Regions from separate parts of the Homo sapiens genome. Here region 1 is linked to region 2. Evidence: fine-mapped QTL for protein levels in blood plasma. Region 2 holds a variant in brackets. A gene starts in the other region. All regions are shown on their reverse strands.

Region 1 (8,340 bases), not on the chromosome of region 2:
TGAATAGTTGCTGATTACATAAAAGACATTCATCCAAATGAGGGTACAGCAAGATAACTAAGACATAAACCTCCTAGCTCCAAGAGATCCAGCCAGGGTCTCATTAAAAACCAACAACCAAAACAAAAACTGTTATGGAATTTTGAAAAACAGGGAAAGTGGGTTTGCCGTGTAGCCAGATATATGTACATCTCATGGACACTGCCATCTGTTTAGATGCCTAGTGTGCATGTGATAAGCTCTAAATTTCTTAGACTACTGGGTTCACTGATGGTACCAGACATAATTTTATATCTTTCCCCCTTGAAGGTCTGGATGTACGCCATTAACTTAATTTAACACATTATGCCACTGGAGTGCCCTGAACCTAAAATAAATCAGTGCTTTCTAGGTATGTTTCCTTTTACAGACATTTCTAAAAATGTATTAAATTGTATCTTTCACTAAAGAAAAAGGATTTGCTCCCAGAATAGCTAGCTACCTGTACTTCAAGAAGTAAGTCACTCCTAGGTAAACTGATTTCAGATGTTAAGCACACACATGCACACCAACACACACAGAATTCACCAACTTTGAGACAGTGGAACTTTCCACCTAAAGAATGTAAGAATTGAACATAAAAATGAGATTGAGAGAACTGCTGTAAGGAAAGAAAAATAAAGATTAACACTTGGAGAAAATAGGAGAGGTTGAAAGCATGCACTGCATGGCTAAAAGTGGTAAAGCTCTAATGCTTAAGAAATTGCAAAGAAGTTGATGAAACGCCAAAATGTCTAGAAAGGCCTCGATCAACATCTTGGTTAGAGAGGGCTAAATGGCAAAATTACAGCAAGTGGACAATTCATTTACCGATACAGGAACTTGGAGAGCAAAAGGAAGTAGGGAGTCTTGATTGCTGGTTCAGAAAAGAAAAATTCAATGAAGAAGCTAAAACTGACCCCCTGAAAAATGTAAGTTTGTCAACTGATTAAAAGTTTTTTACAAAAATATGTTTCCAGCTCTGAACTCCAAGAAACTTTCAGAATATTGTTGAAACATGCCTGTTCCTTTCCCTAACATTCGCAAATTGCATTTTGCATTTCAGTTATAGACCTACTGAAGTTTAAAATGGCTGGAAATTATTTCAAATCTAGAACCTCAAATGTTTCAGAAGAAATAGAGTATTATTCCTGAATATTGGCAACAGCGTTTTCCATTACAAAAAGTATACAGATGTTCCAAACACACTTTTAACCAGAAAAAATGATGTGTTGACACTTAGTTGACTTGATTCTTTTCACCTACATATGAACTCAATCATTTCCCTTTGTCTCCCAGTTTAAGAGATTTACCAAGGTATAAATACTACCATAGGTGTATGTGTGTGTGTTTTTTCAAAAGGTCTGTCCAAATGATGAATATTTTTGACTTCCTTAAAAACTAAGTAAGCAAGCATTAGATTTCAACCTAGGAAAGAAGATTTTTAAATATCCCCTTACCCTAATGTCAGCTGCTACCCACGACCTCTATTGAAATGTTCACGACAAAAGGTCACAGGGTGCCCCATCCCCTCCTAAACAGCAATGGAAACGGGCACACACTCACTGCACTATTCTTCTTAATCTCTATTGGAATCTACCCCATGATACCAAATTGAATATAAATTGTAACTGCATATATATCTATCAAAAGTTTAAATTAAAAAGTAGAGGAGACAGATACAGGGATTTTTTTGAATGGGGTTCAAAAATCTGCATCAGAATATTAAACTAATTACTACTACTAACCCTTCTCAAATGAAGTTGGAGTTTCAATATTACCACAGTCTCAATGTTTGCACATGTTTTACCCTATCAGGGGCACAAGCTTCATTCTCTTTAATTAGGATAAAGACACTGTTAGGGAGTAACTGGGCCATAATTAAGAGTTATATTAGGGAAGGATACACTTTATTAGACTTGAATACTTCTCAGATCAAAAACTTCACCACCATTAGTAGGACATTCCTAGTATAATACATCACTTCCTTTGATGATCTTGGAACTAGAAAAGTCAGATGTTTACAAAGACAGTGATCTCATCGATTCCTGACCACCTTCAAAATTAATATTTAATTGTAACTTAATGAAAGAGCCACACTGAATTTTCTTACCAATTTACCAGATTACATAAAAGAGATTGCCAAACACCGTATTACGCAAAATGAAAGCTAATTTAAATGTATTAGACTCTAGAGTGTGGAAATGGAAAAATCTTGCATTTTTATATGGAAGGTGTTTGTGGAACTCCTTGAGAAATAATATGTTAGAATACATCATTCATGTCTTGGTACGAAATCAGAAGACCTAAGGGTAATATAAATGTATATGAAGAGTTTTATGTTTTTTCACTCACATGAATAGGGGATTGGATAAAATCATAGCACCATATGATTAATACTATACATACCAGGTTTTGTTTGAACTCCAATTCTCATTCTACTCACCATGCACTACACACTGCACAAGGATCACTCTTTCTCTAGAGACAAACCCAACACATACCCACACAAAAAACCCTCATATCCAAAAGTAAAGGATAACCAGACAATCTCTAAGATAAGAACTCTCAAAAGTATGGATCCGCCTTTCCTATCGCTCAGCCTCCTTAGTCTTGACAGCAGAGTGAAAACTGTTTTCTACAGGTGAAAGCCCTAAGTCTTCATCAAAGCCATACCAGGGACGGAAAGGTAGAAAAGTATTAACGCTAAAATCTCACGCCTAAGCTTTAACACCCTTCCGGAACAGTAAGACAGAACTAGGCCCATCAGAAATTCTACATAAAATCAGTGACCACTAGTCACTAGTCTCCTAGTGCTTGAAACTCTGAGAAAGCAATCAAGCAGTCCCTCATTTTCCTGAGATTTTTGGGCTGGCCTGAGCACACACAAGACCAACGGAGTCAAATTAAGTTGGCAATAAAACAAGCGGTTCCAAGAAAGCAAAAACTATTTTCAATTCCACATCTCCAAGACGCCTCAGGCTACAGTATTCAATCGATACAAATGACATTCACAACAGAAGCCGATTTTGCAAAGCCCTTGGAACTTAGGGGTCTGCGTCAGCACTCTGGAACGTCTATGCTTCCTAGGACCAAAGAATAAACAAAGATAACTCAAGGCATAAGGCGATCCAGCACCTAAGATCTCAGCAAAAAAAAGCTAGGTCCTGAGGCAGCTAGTGGAAAAACAAGAGAAGGGAAGTCAAAAGGCTACTTGCTGTCAGCTAAAGCCAGGTCAGTACTAATCTCTACTTTCCTGGACATTGGTACAAAAAGCAATGACAAGGCCATCAGTCCCCTGTTCCCCTCGCTCACTATTGTGTGTGTGTGTGTGTGTGTGTGTGTGTGTGTTTTGTTTGTAAGAAAATGCTTATAGTGGCTTCCCGCCCGCGCAGAACACAGCCAAGACTAAACTTTTAAACCTTGAGGAAGGTGGGAAAGTCAGCCAGCCAGACGCCGGCCTAGGAAAAGTAGGGAGAGAAGGAGGGAAAGAGTCATGTTTCAAAACAAAGGCTCCACACGGAACTGAATGTCAACCCCTCTCCACTTCCCAGCCTTCAAGCCAGCCAGGCTGGGCCTCGATTTTTTAGAAGCGGAGTAAGTCAGATTCACCCGGCTCTCAGCGTCCACTGAGGCTTTGCGATGCACGAGAACACGGGCACAGCCACCTACTTGCTGGGGCTGCTGCTAGCCCCCCCCCCCCCCAACCACCCCCTTGAGAAAAAACGGGCTTGGAACGTCGGAGACTTGCCCAACGTCCCACACTAGAACCTGAATTCAATTCCTTTCACGTCCGGGCAAGGCCAACGCAGGGCGGGCACCGGGCGAGGGCCGCGGGAGCCGAAATGGCAACGCCCCTGACCTGAGAGAACCTCGGGCTGGGAGAGGGGAGGGTCCCGCGCGCTCTCCCTCCGGGGCCCTTACCTTCCTTGACTCCAGGCAGCTTGGACTGGTCGATGCTGACTTCAGCCATACCGGGCCAGGGTCCCGGTTGCCCCTTTAACGCGGGCTTCCCGGTCACCGCCGGCGCCGAGCGGGGCCCCGAGCGCAGCAGCAGCGCCGGACGCGGCGCAAAGTCCGGCCGGCAGGGCTCGCAGGCCGGAGAACGGAGCGGGTCGGGCGGGCAGGGGCTGGTGACCAAAGCAGCGGGAGACGGTCCCCGAGGCACCAAGCTGGCGGCCCAGCTGCCCCGCCGCGGCCACCTGCTCCGCGTCCCCGGCCCCAATCGATACCAAATATCCGGAGCCCGGAAATGGACCGGGGCCGTCCAGTACGGAGGGAGAGAGGAGACAGAAAGGCGGGCGGGCCGGCTGGGGGAGGGGGAGCTGCAGGTCTGTAACCGCAATTGCGAGTGGCTGGCGAGCGAAGATCAGCGCCCGCTGCCGCCTCGCTGTTGTCTCCTTTGTGCTCAGTGACGCGCCGCCTGAGGCTGGGGCCCCGCTGTGCTCCCGCCCCCGGGCCCTGCCCCCCTCCTACGGGAGGGTCGCGTCTTTAGGTGGGGGCCTTGTATCCTAAAGGCCTCAACAAAAAGGCCACACGGGTCACCTAAAACATAGTCTTTCCCGTGAGCGGTGTAGTCAGCATTCTGTGGTCTGGTTCTGGGATTGAGATTAACACAGGATGTTTACTGCATGCTTGCCTCTCTCTCATACACTCTTTTTGCACCCGGAATTAGAGGAGAGATGGTAGATGGCCATAAAAACCCCAAATACAACGTACAGAATGAAGAGCAGCTGATAAAATTCTGGGCCAGTTTGGAGTAGAGTGTGTACACAATCAGCTGGGAGAACTGAGTCATTCATTCATCAAAATCGCATGAATGTGTCTACCAAGTGTGATGTTAGGTACTGTGGGTGATAACGAGGCGTCAGACTTATCTCTGTTATAGCGCTGCACACATTGGATTGTAATTGTGACATTTCTATCTCTCTAAAATAGACAACCTCTCCTGTTTCATCTCCTGGCAACAGAATGCATCCTCCTTTTGGGAAACTGCCTCTTTCCCCACTCCTCAGAGGTGAGCTTCTCTCCCAAACGTGTGCCATGTCTGAACCTCGAGACTACCCCATCACTCTTCCCCCTTCCTCCACCGACATGGGTTCATCGAAGGGTGGCTGGGTGACCAAGACAGGTCAAACAGAATACTTTCCTGGGTACATAAAGAGTTACATATTCTGTTTCTTGTGGAAAAGATCTGCCTCTAGGAGATGATGAGGCCAAACTGAAGACAGAAGCAAAGAGAAGAGAAAGGGAGATGAAGAGGGCATGTTCTGATGTTACCACAGTAGCAAAGCAGGATATCCCCAGAGCAGCTGGCATTTCAGCAACTCCTGGATTCTGGGATCTACAACCCGCAAACTCTCAACTTATCCTCAGTTTTGCTTAAGCTAGTAATAGTTGATTTTCTGTCACTCACAGCTCAGAGTCCCAGTATGAGAGGCCACGTAGGGGAGGTTTTATTTGAACTTGACATTGAAAAGTAGGTGGATTTTAGGCTAGCAAAAATTTAGAAGACTTTCAAGGCCAGAGGGTAGCAAAGTATAGCCCACAGGCCAAATCTACGCCACTGAATTTGAATGACTGTTTTTTATATGTTCAAATAATTACATTTCAAATCACTACATAAATAGGACATAATATTTTCGACCTTGCCTCTTAAGCCTCAAAGTCTAAAATATGCTTTACAGGAAAAGTTTACCCACCCCAGTGCTAGGCAGAGATAACACTCAGCAGGTTAAATGTGGGAATAAGAAGGAAGTGGTATTAGAAAGGTAGATTTATGGGAATTTTTTAATTGTCCTGTAATCTAGTAATTTTTTTTAACTTCCTGTGGTCTAGAGAATATTTATAACAGCAGTATTTTCTGTTTCCCTCCCCAAATCTATCGTTTCTACTTCTCTACCAAGCCGTGCCTTTGGATGCCTACAGATAAATCACTAGGCCCCTTTGACCTGTGGCTTCCTGTTGTGATTGACCAATGGGAAGCACTGGCAGAAAATCAAAAGAAGGGAGGAGAGAAATATCAGAGTATTCTTCTTTCCTTTAACCCAAAATTTTGGCCACAGTCCTGTCCCTCTATGACTACAGGGCCTGTGTAGAGGCCTCTTTTCCATGGCCTCAGCTCTCATGGGTCTCTAATAAAACAATTTGTTTCCAGTGTCCCTTCAGGCCTAGAGTGTGATGGCTTCCCCTAGTTCCTTTTGGCTCACTGCAACTTCTGCCTCCCAGGTTCCAGTGATTCTCGTGCCTCAGCCTCCCGAGTAGCTGGGATTACAGGTGTGCACCACAACGCCTGGCTAATCTTTTGTATTTTTAGTAGAGGCAGGGTTTTGGCATGTTGGCCAGGCTGGTCTGGAACTCCTGGCCTCAAGTGATCCGCCCACCTCGGCCTCCCAAAGTGCTGGGATTACAGGCACGAGCCACCACGCCCGGCCTCCCCTAGTTCTCTTAACCCAGTTAATACCTCTGAAATTGTCTCTTCATTACATTCTTTTCAGTAAAATCACTTACAGTGCACCTCCTGTTTCCTACCTAGACTGTGACTGTTACAGTAAGATATGCCAAAAGTAAGATATGCTTAAAATATGATGTGCTTACAGTAAGATATGCATAAAAATATCCACATTTCTGGCCTAGAGAAGAAATGGAAACATATATAATAGCCACAACTATTGTTTAGAGAATCGGCTGCTTTCAGCAGAAAAAGTAATGAAAACCAGGAGCCCTTTTCAGGTACTAGAGCAGATGACCTGGAAATCCACCCCATAGTTGGGCTTTCCTTCTCCTACTCCACACCTGTTCTGTATAGGTCCCCAAGCTGAGCAAACAATTAGAGCTCAGCATTACAGAGTAGGCAACTTCTAGCAAAGGACTGACAGTAACACGGGGAAGAGCTAGTATCTTTTGAGTATTTATAGGGAATGAACATATGGTGAATTTCTGTAACAAGTTTACATCTTTTGGTGTCCTGAAATGTCCATTTTGCAATAAAAGAGAAAGCATAAGGCTTCTCAGGATGGATACAGATCCCTAATTTGGGGCAGATGCCAAACAAGTAATTCAGCATCAAATCACAACTTGAATGCCATAGAGAGAAATAAGGATTTTATTTATAAGGCAATATGGAGGCATCAATTGATTTTTTTTTCTAGGTGGATATTACATGATACATTTTCTACTTTTATAAAGTGAATTTGGTAACAATAAAATGCTTGGATTGGAGTAGGGAGACTTTGGTCATAAGAAATGAAAACTCCAGTTTGAAAACTACCAAATTCCACAAAAGCATCCCCCAGTTAGAGCTTACCTTACTAGAAGGTAAGCTCTGTGAGGGCAGGGGTTTATCTGTTTGATTCCCTAATATCCGCGTATCTAGAAAAGTGCTTGGCACATAATAGGCACTCAATAAATATTTGTTGCATAAATAAATAAATATAGTTATCCAATTTTATTATCAGTAAGAATCACAAATTAAAAGTAAGTTAAAAAAACAATATAGGCAAATGAATAAATTACACTGGACCTTGGCAAAACAGGAAAGGGGACCCACAGAACTATACTTCTGGAAAGAATTATCTGTCTCCTTGGCCCCCAGTGCTTCCTAGCTCATCAGCATAATATACCTAAGAGAACAGTTCCAAAAATGAGGATGCAATTAGAACTGTTATTCACTTTCACCAAGAAGACTGTATGAATATTCTAAGGTTGCCATAACAAAATACCACAGACTGAATGGCTTAAATAACAGAAATTATTATATATGTTTTTCACAGTTCTGGAGGCTAGAAGTCCAAGAGCAAGGTGTCAGAACATTTGGTTTCTTCTGAAATCCCTCTTTTTAGTTTGCAGATTGGATTAGGGCTAACCCAAATGTCTTCCTTAAAGACCCTGTCTGCAGTGCAGTCCCTCTGAATTACTGGAGGCTAGGGCTTCAACATGTGAATCTTAGGGACAGATAATTCAGCCCATAGTAGAGACTATTAGGACAATAATCCAACCGTACAGTTTAGGCCTCTTTACTCCAGGCCTTGAAGCATTTTTGTCTGGACTCTCATAACATATGTAAGTTCCCCAACCCTATTCATGCTCTCAACTTTCCTCAGTTGCTCAAGTCCCCTCACCCTATGGAATTCACTATCAGTTACTCACAAAATTCCCCATATCTCCTTTGTAACTATTCCCTTTCCCTTCTTTTCCTACTGGAACTCAGGGGTCACCTGGGGACATTGCTCTTCCAAGAGCCCTCTAAATTAGAGGCTGTTTCTTCTAACATACCCTAGACCCCATTGGACCTGGAGGTGCCATGGTTTTTATCTTATTGCC
Region 2 (8,340 bases):
CAAAAAATTAGCCAGGTGGGGTGGCATGAACCTGTAGTCCCAGCTACTCGGGAGGCTGAGGCAGGAGATTTAATCCTACAAGACCTACAGCCTCAGACAATGCTGCTGTCAGTGATCGTGGGAAGCAGAGTTTGCAGTGAGCTGAGATTGTGCCACTGCACTCCAGCTTGGGCAACAAAGCGAGATTCCATCTCCAAAAAAAAAATTCAGATTTCAGTGTTAAGTAAAGTTGCCTACATTGTGTGAGTGACAGGGCAGTGGTGGATCCGAGAGTGTGGATCTGAGAGTGAGTCAGAAATCAGCATGTAAAGATGAGGATCTATGCACATGAACTGAAAGTATGTAAACAGTTCATGAAATTCTAATAAATCCAGTAGGAAATAAAACCCAAACTTATCCAAAACACAAATTCCCTTGAAATTATTATGGGAGCATGAGTTCATAAAGAACTCCTAACTCCTGTTTCAACTTCTGAATCCTAGTGTCCATGACATAAGAAAATCATCTCCAATTATGCATCACAGGGCAAATCTGTAAACTAAGAGTTTTTCTGTTGACGATCCTGGGGAATCAGGACACCAGGAAGGTGCTGGAGAAACTGTCTCAGGAGCGCCCCAGGGATCTCAGAGGAACGTGCTGGCCACTCACGTGGGACATCAGCGTCACTTGCTCAGAGTCATCAGTGAGCTGTGCTGGTGTCTGACGGGTCCAGCATAGGGCCAAGGCACCTGCTCTGTGTCATGGACCGAGATGGTCCCCAGAATGATCCAAGTGGTCTCTGTGCTAATCTAATGTAGTTTCACAGTGAGAGGCCGTTCTGAGGGGGCTTCTTCTTCAGTGAAAGGACCTCTGTCCACAAATATTCCTAAATGGACAGGGGCATGCATTTCCTCAAGCAGGATTAGGGCTTGGACCATCAGCATCTCACTCTTGCAAGGCTGATGTGTCATTTGTCTTCCCTTTCTTATCATGGATCAGGCTTTGAGCTATGAAATGCCCTGTCTCATGAATATGTAAATACCTGAGATCCACTGAGGTAAATATGGTCTGTGCCCTGAGAGCTTCACCCAACAATCACATCCCGCCTCTAGAGAATCCCCCGAGAGCATGGCTCCTCACCATGGACAGGACCTAGAGCTAATCTTCCTGGTGGCAGCAGCTACAGGTAAGGTGCTCCCAAGTCCCAGTGATGAGAAGGGGATTGAGTACAGTCAAGGAGGCTTTCATCCACTCCTGTGTCCCACCCTCCAATGGGTGTCTGCTCCCAGGTGCAGCTGGGGCAGTCTGAGGCTGAGGTAAAGAAGCCTGGGGCCTCAGTGAAGGTCTCCTGCAAGGCTTCCGGATACACCTTCACTTGCTGCTCCTTGCACTGGTTGCAACAGGCCCCTGGACAAGGGCTTGAAAGGATGAGATGGATCACACTTTACAATGGTAACACCAACTATGCAAAGAAGTTCCAGGGCAGAGTCACCATTACCAGGGACATGTCCCTGAGGACAGCCTACATAGAGCTGAGCAGCCTGAGATCTGAGGACTCGGCTGTGTATTACTGGGCAAGATACACGGTGCGAGAACCCACATCCTGAGAGAGTCAGGAACCCCAGGGAGGAGGCAGCTGTGCTGGCATGGAGGAGATGACAAAGATTATTAGATTGAAGACTTTCTTAGAAAATAGCATTAAGTCATTTACGAAAAGGAACAATATAAATGTGTATTTGAGAAATTGTAATTATTTGAGAGATTTCTTATGCAACATTTATTCTGTAAGCAAATTCTAGGGATTGGAGAATTAATCAAATTAATAAAGCTGACATAGAAATTCCTCTGAAGGTATCTTTGTAAACATCAATTTCTGAATCAGTGTTGTAAATGTTTTGGAACACAGACACAAGATCACATTTTAACTCTACTTTTGTCTCTATAAAAAATGCCAAAAAGAGTCTCATTTTGACCATGTACCTCTTTGAATTCCCACCATCAATGAATGATTGTTCTTGGGTTTCCACATTATATTACCATTTATCATTATGAGAATTGTGTGTTTTAACCATTATAATAGGTGAGTAATGGTATCTAATTTTTGCTTAAATGCACATGCCCCTAATAAAATTCATATTTAACAATTTTCATATAATTTTTGGTGAGATGCCTCTCCTGATATTTGGTTCATTTTCAATAGCACTGTTTTCTTTTGATTAGTTGTAAGTTTACTTGCATATTGATTATAAAAGTTAATTAACAAATTAAAAGAATTCATTTAACAAATATGTGACTTGGAAGTTGCAGGGGTTTGTCCTGCACACCCTGACACAATGACGAATGAATAAAGTGCACTGACACAAAGATATTCTGCTTTGCCAGCTCGACTGAGCATCTGGGCCACTTAGTCACAGCCACCGCCTCGATCAGTCAGGGAGACTTACATTTATTCAGTAAAGATTAATTGACAAAGGCCGTGAGTAAACACCACTAGAAGGTAATTGACATTGTGGACCTCTTGAGTGGAAAGCAATTAAGCACCCGCGGTAGATCAAAGGTTAGTCTTAGGAACACATGAGTAAACAAGCTAGTTAGATAAGCTCCTCACATTCCTTTGTTTCTACTCTACTTTATGTAACTAAAGGTAAGGGGACTAGGCTGCCTTCAGCCAGATTTATTACCAAAGTTATGCAAACTCACAGGCCTTCCAAGAGGGTTTGTGGCTATTAGAACTAAAATGTTTCCCACCAGCCTGACTGGACCACCACATCTCCCCATTTTTTGTTTTCTACATCAGGTCTTTTGGATTGGAGCGTGCAGATATGCGCAGCAACATGTCTGTCAGGTGTGGCAGTCATTGCTCTTATTCTGGCTTTGCATCCTAGAATTAGCAAATAACATAAAACAATCATGAGTAGAATTAGCAACATTCTTTTCCAGTCAGAGTGACCCCCAGGAGCGGGGTCTAACCAGGAGAGATGATCTCACACACCCTTCCATATGACTGTTTGTTGGGGGTGTAGATCTATTGCGTGAAGAGATTCTAAAATTTTAGTTTGAACTTACTTTACGTCTGCTGTTAAATTGTCATGAAAGGTTCCCCAGAGGTATTGTTTTACCTCATCCTAACTATGTATTGATAGATTCCGTGGTAGAGAAGTGATACAGATATGTTCATGTTCCCAGTCACAGTTTAAATGCTGTCAGAATGCCACTGCATCTTGTCGCTCCCTGACATATTCTAAAGCAGCCTCAAGGGCTAGCAGACGTGTGATAATTTTTTGATCTATACCTTGCTGTAAGAGAAGTTCATTAGACACATTTTTGGCCAGATTATCTAAAAAGGCAGCAGTTTACACTAAGTCAATAATACATGCAACAGCAACACTAGCTGTTGCCAGGATGACTATGGCTGAGACTATAAAGGCCATAAGTGTAACTATGAATCTTTTGTGTCTGACCTGGGACAGGGCACGTTCTAAGGTTGCAAGGGCATAGGAACCTTGCCAATTGCATGCCAGATTGACTGGTAAGAATGCCTCAGATTTTCTCTTTAATACCATGGCGCTAGTAATTTTTAAGTTAGATATACTGTGATTAGTGATACATGAGGCAAACCAAGCCTGTCCCTGCATCCAGGTCACAAACGTGGAGTTTTGAGGTGTAATGGAAATGTTAGTTCCCATAAGGAAATCGTATGGATGGGTAGTGCAAATTAGGCACTGATCAGTGTGATTATGAATAAAGCTTATAGCATAGTTGCAACGGGAAATATGGTATGTCCCATGCCAGGTGTTAAGGGAGGTGCTAAGATGTCCCAGACACCATAAAGTACCTTGGGGCGGCATGGACTTTACTTGGGGCCTTGGATATGCCATCCCCCC[T/AT]TGGCACAAATTATAGGGGAAAAGACATGGCTATGAAACTGATTGATGCTCTGATGGATGAAGGTATTAGTAAGGCTGCCCTGCAATCAGCCGCTGGGACTCCAGTCTAAGATGTTATAATTACCTAACTGGAGGCTATGGGCTCGTCTCCCATGACAGACCTCCCAGCTAAAGTCGAACCGATTACTGTCCCAGCTTTGTTCCTTAGCACAGGAAGGAATGTTTGGGAAAGAAGCAGCGGCATGGATTGCATTGCTCAGTTTGAGGCTATCTGCAGCTAAGAATGTTAAGGCATTTCCTTTGCTATGATGTAACCATACTTGTTTTTGGGCAGGTACACAGTAAGGGTTAGAGTCTTTATAACTTACACACACTGGGAGGATAATAGTGGATTGACATATAGTGTTATCTGCCACCTTAGTCCATTGTGTGCCATTATTGAGGGACCCCACGTGGGGTAAATCTATCCCTCCTAGCCAAGCAGTCACGTTACTATAGGCTGGGAAGGGAGTGTCTTCCCATTTGGCAGGGTGAAAGAAAGGTGTGTCTAAGATAGAGGCCCAATAGAGTGTAGCAGGTACAGGTTGCAGACAAAGTGAGAGCATAAAAAGGATTAATACCCTACATGAGTTGCAATGTACAACAGAAATCATAGCACCAAACACATTATCTGGAGTAAATGGTGTCTGCATTTGGAGCAGGATTCGTTCAGCCTCCTGAGTTGTCCTTTTCAGTACCCCCCAGGTAATGTCTGGGGATTGTGTTGTTCACAGAAGCTGCATCGTCCGGGGCTGTAGGTCTTGTAGGGTTAACTCCTTCATTTCTGGTACTGGGTTGGGTCCTAGCAATGTCCTGGTATGGTTTGATGCGTCGTGCTGGAACCCAAAGACGACCCGAGGGGGTGTGGATACAAGCGTACCCTCTTCCCCACATTAATAATTCACTTGGACCACACCATTCATTACTGTTTACATCTTTCCATAAAACTGCAGGTTTCATGTATTGGGAAATTTTAGCAAAGTGCTTTTCTACAGCGGATTCAAATTTGTCTTCTAAATTAAAAAAATAAGGTTTGTGCCAAAAGTGTTGCAGGGTCTGTACCCATACTCCCCTGTTTTTGTTTTTTGTGCATATTTTAAGGGTGGAGTTGGCAAGTTCTACTATTGCTTGTCCTTGGGGTTTATATGGGATACCTGAGGAATGTCGGATATTCCACGTGTGACAAAATTGTTGAAATTGTGAGCTGGCCTAACCTGGACAATTATCAGTCTTAATTTTTGCGGGTTGTTCCATAAATGCAAAAGATAAAAGAAGATGTTTAATGACATATCGAGTAAACTCTCCAGGCGGAGTATGTGCACTACTTAAATGAGTGTTGATATCAAAGGATACATGTACCTATCTAAGTTTTCCAAATTCAGGGATGTGTGTAACATCTGTTTGCCACAACAGATTAGGTTCTAGGGTTAATACCTGTTGAAGGAGGAGACGTGCCTGTGAGCTGGCGATCTCAGAGACTGTTTAGCCAGTCTCTGTATAAGTTGAGCTGGCGATCTCAGAGACTGTTTAGCCAGTCTCTATATAAGTTGGAATTGTTTAGATAAGTTTTTCCAATTTTGGTGGAAAAATTGGTGCAATTGGGTGGCTTGGTCAAGCAGCGATATCATAACTTGAAGGTTGGCTTGATTATTGTCATAAGCTAATGGACCAGGCAGTGAGCTGTGGGCTGGAATGTGTGTAATAAAATAGGATGTGTACTTTGATTTAGCAATTGCTGAAATCAGAGAAAAAGAGTCCACAGGGCTGGCTCCAGAGTTGACTTAATTAGGGCTGTAAAAGTTCTCTAGACCCAATATTAAGGACTCAACTTTAGCTTTCTGAGTGCTAGTAAACCCAGATTGAGTGAATGAATTGTGTGGTGTCCACCAGACTGCTGCTTTTCCATATTTACCAGATCTATCAGTAAACAGTGCTAAAGCATTAAATATGGGGGAGTAAACTATTTTTGTAGGTAACACATTAACTAGGCCTTTTGGGAATGATGAAAATGGGTAAATTCTAAGGGCTGTTAGTAGAATATTACCCATAAAATGAATAATCTTGTAGCCAGGAAACTTTTTCCTACTAGGGAGCAAAGCTTGCTTTTAATTGCTCCCTAACTAACTTAGGGGCTTTTTGTAATGTCTCTCCCTTTAGAGGTTACTGTTTTACTTAAACTGGATTTGGAGTCATGTTAGGAATAAGAGAGAGATAACAGTGGCCATTATTAGAAAGAGGTTTCTCAAATTCTTAAATTTTACTTAACTCTTATCATAGAATTATAATCTGGGATGTCGCTTGTATACAAAGAACATAACAAATTTTGCTTTGGGCCGCCTGCGGAGCCAGAGAGCGGAGCAGGTGGGTCCCAGGGCGGCTGCGGCTTTGTGCTTGCTTAGAAGCCACTTTTCGCCACCGCGTTTCCTCTGTGCCAGCTCCCTCCCCACACTGCTCAGCAGCTGCTGCCGGCAGAGGGGAGCTTCCTGCACTTGCTCCTGCCCCTAATGCCTTTTCTTAACCCTTCGTGTACCTGATTGCCTTGCTGATCTTGCATTACTGGGCAGTCTAAGAGCTCCCCTTTTAATGCTGCTTGTCGAAGACAGGGACATATAGCTGTAGTGTATTTCCTCTATTTTTTCTATCTATTGAAAGAGGGGGCTCAGGCAAAACCTCCGTTTCCTCTTTGTTATTTTGGGAAGAGCAGGTGGTAAGGCAAGTGACGTTTCTTCCTCCTTCCCCTTTTTGGGTTCTTCTTTGTATAATGGGACTAAAGCCATCCCTACTAAAGCCCATAGTGTTAAAGATGATGCTGGGACCCGTTGCGCTTGTGTGTAATGCTGTTCAAGATTTCTCCCTACTTGTTCCCAGAGCTTTACTTCTAGCTTTCCTTCTTCTGGGACCACAGATTATGTGAGACAACAGTTTTCATTAGGTGCCTTAATTGAGCCTGCGAAACTGATGCTCCCCTAGCCTTAAGCAACTGTTACAATACTTTCATATGCTGTTTGTGTTGAGCTGATAACTGCTGTCCCATGATGAAATCTCAGCCTGAACAATCTCCCCTGAACTTGGAGATCCCAAGTGGGCACCAATGACTTACTGTTTTACTGACTTGACCACGCAGTCTTCCTCAACCTTCGTTTTCATGGGGTCTGTCACGCTCCCTTTGCAGCGATCCTCACATGGGGCACCGGCTGTGGGGGTCTGTCCTGCAGGTCCTGACACAACAACGGGTGAATAAAGTACACTGACACACAGATATTCTGCTTTGCCAGCTTGACTGACCATCCAGGTAGATCAAAGGTGAGTCTTAGGACCACATGAGTGAACAAGCTAGTTAGATAAACTCCCCACATTCTTTTGTTTCTACTCAAATTTACTAAACTAAAGGTAAGGGGACTAGGCTGCCTTCAGCCAGATTTATTACTGAAGTTATGCAATCTCTCAAGCCTTCCACGAGGACTTGTGGCTATTATAACTAAAATTTTTCCCACGAGCCTGACTGAACCCCACAGGAAGTATTTTCTCCAAGTCTGTGGTTGCCTTTTACTCCCTTATCAGTAGGTATCGCAGAAAAATGTGTGTGTTTGTGTGTGTGTGTGTTTGTACAAATTTAGATTGAAAACATATATAATTTTATTCATTCATAGATCATGCCTTTGGCATTATATCTGAAGTTTCATTATAAAATAAACTAATAGTCATTATTTTTTCCATATCTCTAATCTCAGGCCACAATCAACTCATGAGTGTTTAAACTTCACCTGCTTGATTGGAGGACCATCAATCTAATGTATTTGGAATACTTCTGTAAGGAGATGTGTTCTTCTTCCTATTATTTTTTAATTAATCATCTATTAATATCAGTATTGGTTGATGGATGTCCATTTTATACTTTGAAAAAGATCCATGCTACATCATTCATTTAATTGTTCAAAGCACCACAGCTTTATTAGGTGCTGGGAGCTCATTTTGTTTGAATCCTGCATCCTTACAGCACACCTCATATTTTTGTTTTTGAACACTTGCGTATTTCCTGGTATTACCATAAATTCTAAGCTTGTTTTCTTTATTACCTTTTTTTACATAGAATCAACCACTTTTATAAAGATTGCATGTTTCTGATGTTAAAGAATAGTATTAAAATAAAACATTGTGATACTGGCTCTGTGTGTTGTTAATGTGGTATGAGTACTTCTAGAACCTCTCAAACAATGGTCCCAGTAAACGTGCATGTTTATGTGAACCCAAGTTTATGGACTCATTGAAACTATTTATGTATCTAATCTTCTGTAACCATATCACATTAAAAATGAGAACACACTGGTCTCTCCACCCAACTATGTTAGCACATGAACCTTTCTAGTCTTCTTTCTTTGCGTTTCCATAACCACCCACTGCAAAGTGAGAAACCCCATTCCACCATATGTAATTTTAT

Which allele goes with the higher level. Alleles are on the strand shown, and positions count from the first base shown. The strength of an association depends on the size of the effect and on how common the allele is.
With allele AT in place of T in region 2, the plasma level of the protein whose gene starts at base 4,272 in region 1 is higher (strong association).

What was found. PIP is the chance, under the fine-mapping model, that this variant and not a neighbour inherited with it causes the effect. The UK Biobank Pharma Proteomics Project read protein levels with antibody pairs (Olink). The fine-mapping took linkage between variants from a reference panel, not from the people measured, so its PIPs are less certain.
Region 1: it holds the start of CCDC50, and the variant in region 2 is fine-mapped to the plasma level of the CCDC50 protein (UK Biobank, PIP above 0.99).

The regions. Positions count from the first base shown.
Region 1 is chr3:191,325,326-191,333,665 of GRCh38, reverse strand. CCDC50 (coiled-coil domain containing 50) reads right to left here and starts at 4,272. Exons shown (of 12, transcript NM_178335.3): 1 at 3,943-4,272. The coding sequence starts at 3,991. It overlaps UTS2B (urotensin 2B), which reads left to right and starts at 3,140. Exons shown (of 9, transcript NM_198152.5): 1 at 3,140-3,252; 2 at 4,957-5,035. RefSeq lists enhancers at 3,503-4,103, 4,104-4,705 and silencers at 4,117-4,396, 4,497-4,576.
Region 2 is chr14:106,697,067-106,705,406 of GRCh38, reverse strand. It overlaps IGH and the pseudogene IGHV1-68. Among named protein-coding and RNA genes, the nearest start is that of MIR5195, 150 kb to the left of the region's middle. The variant T/AT (reference allele first, on the strand shown) is at 3,864.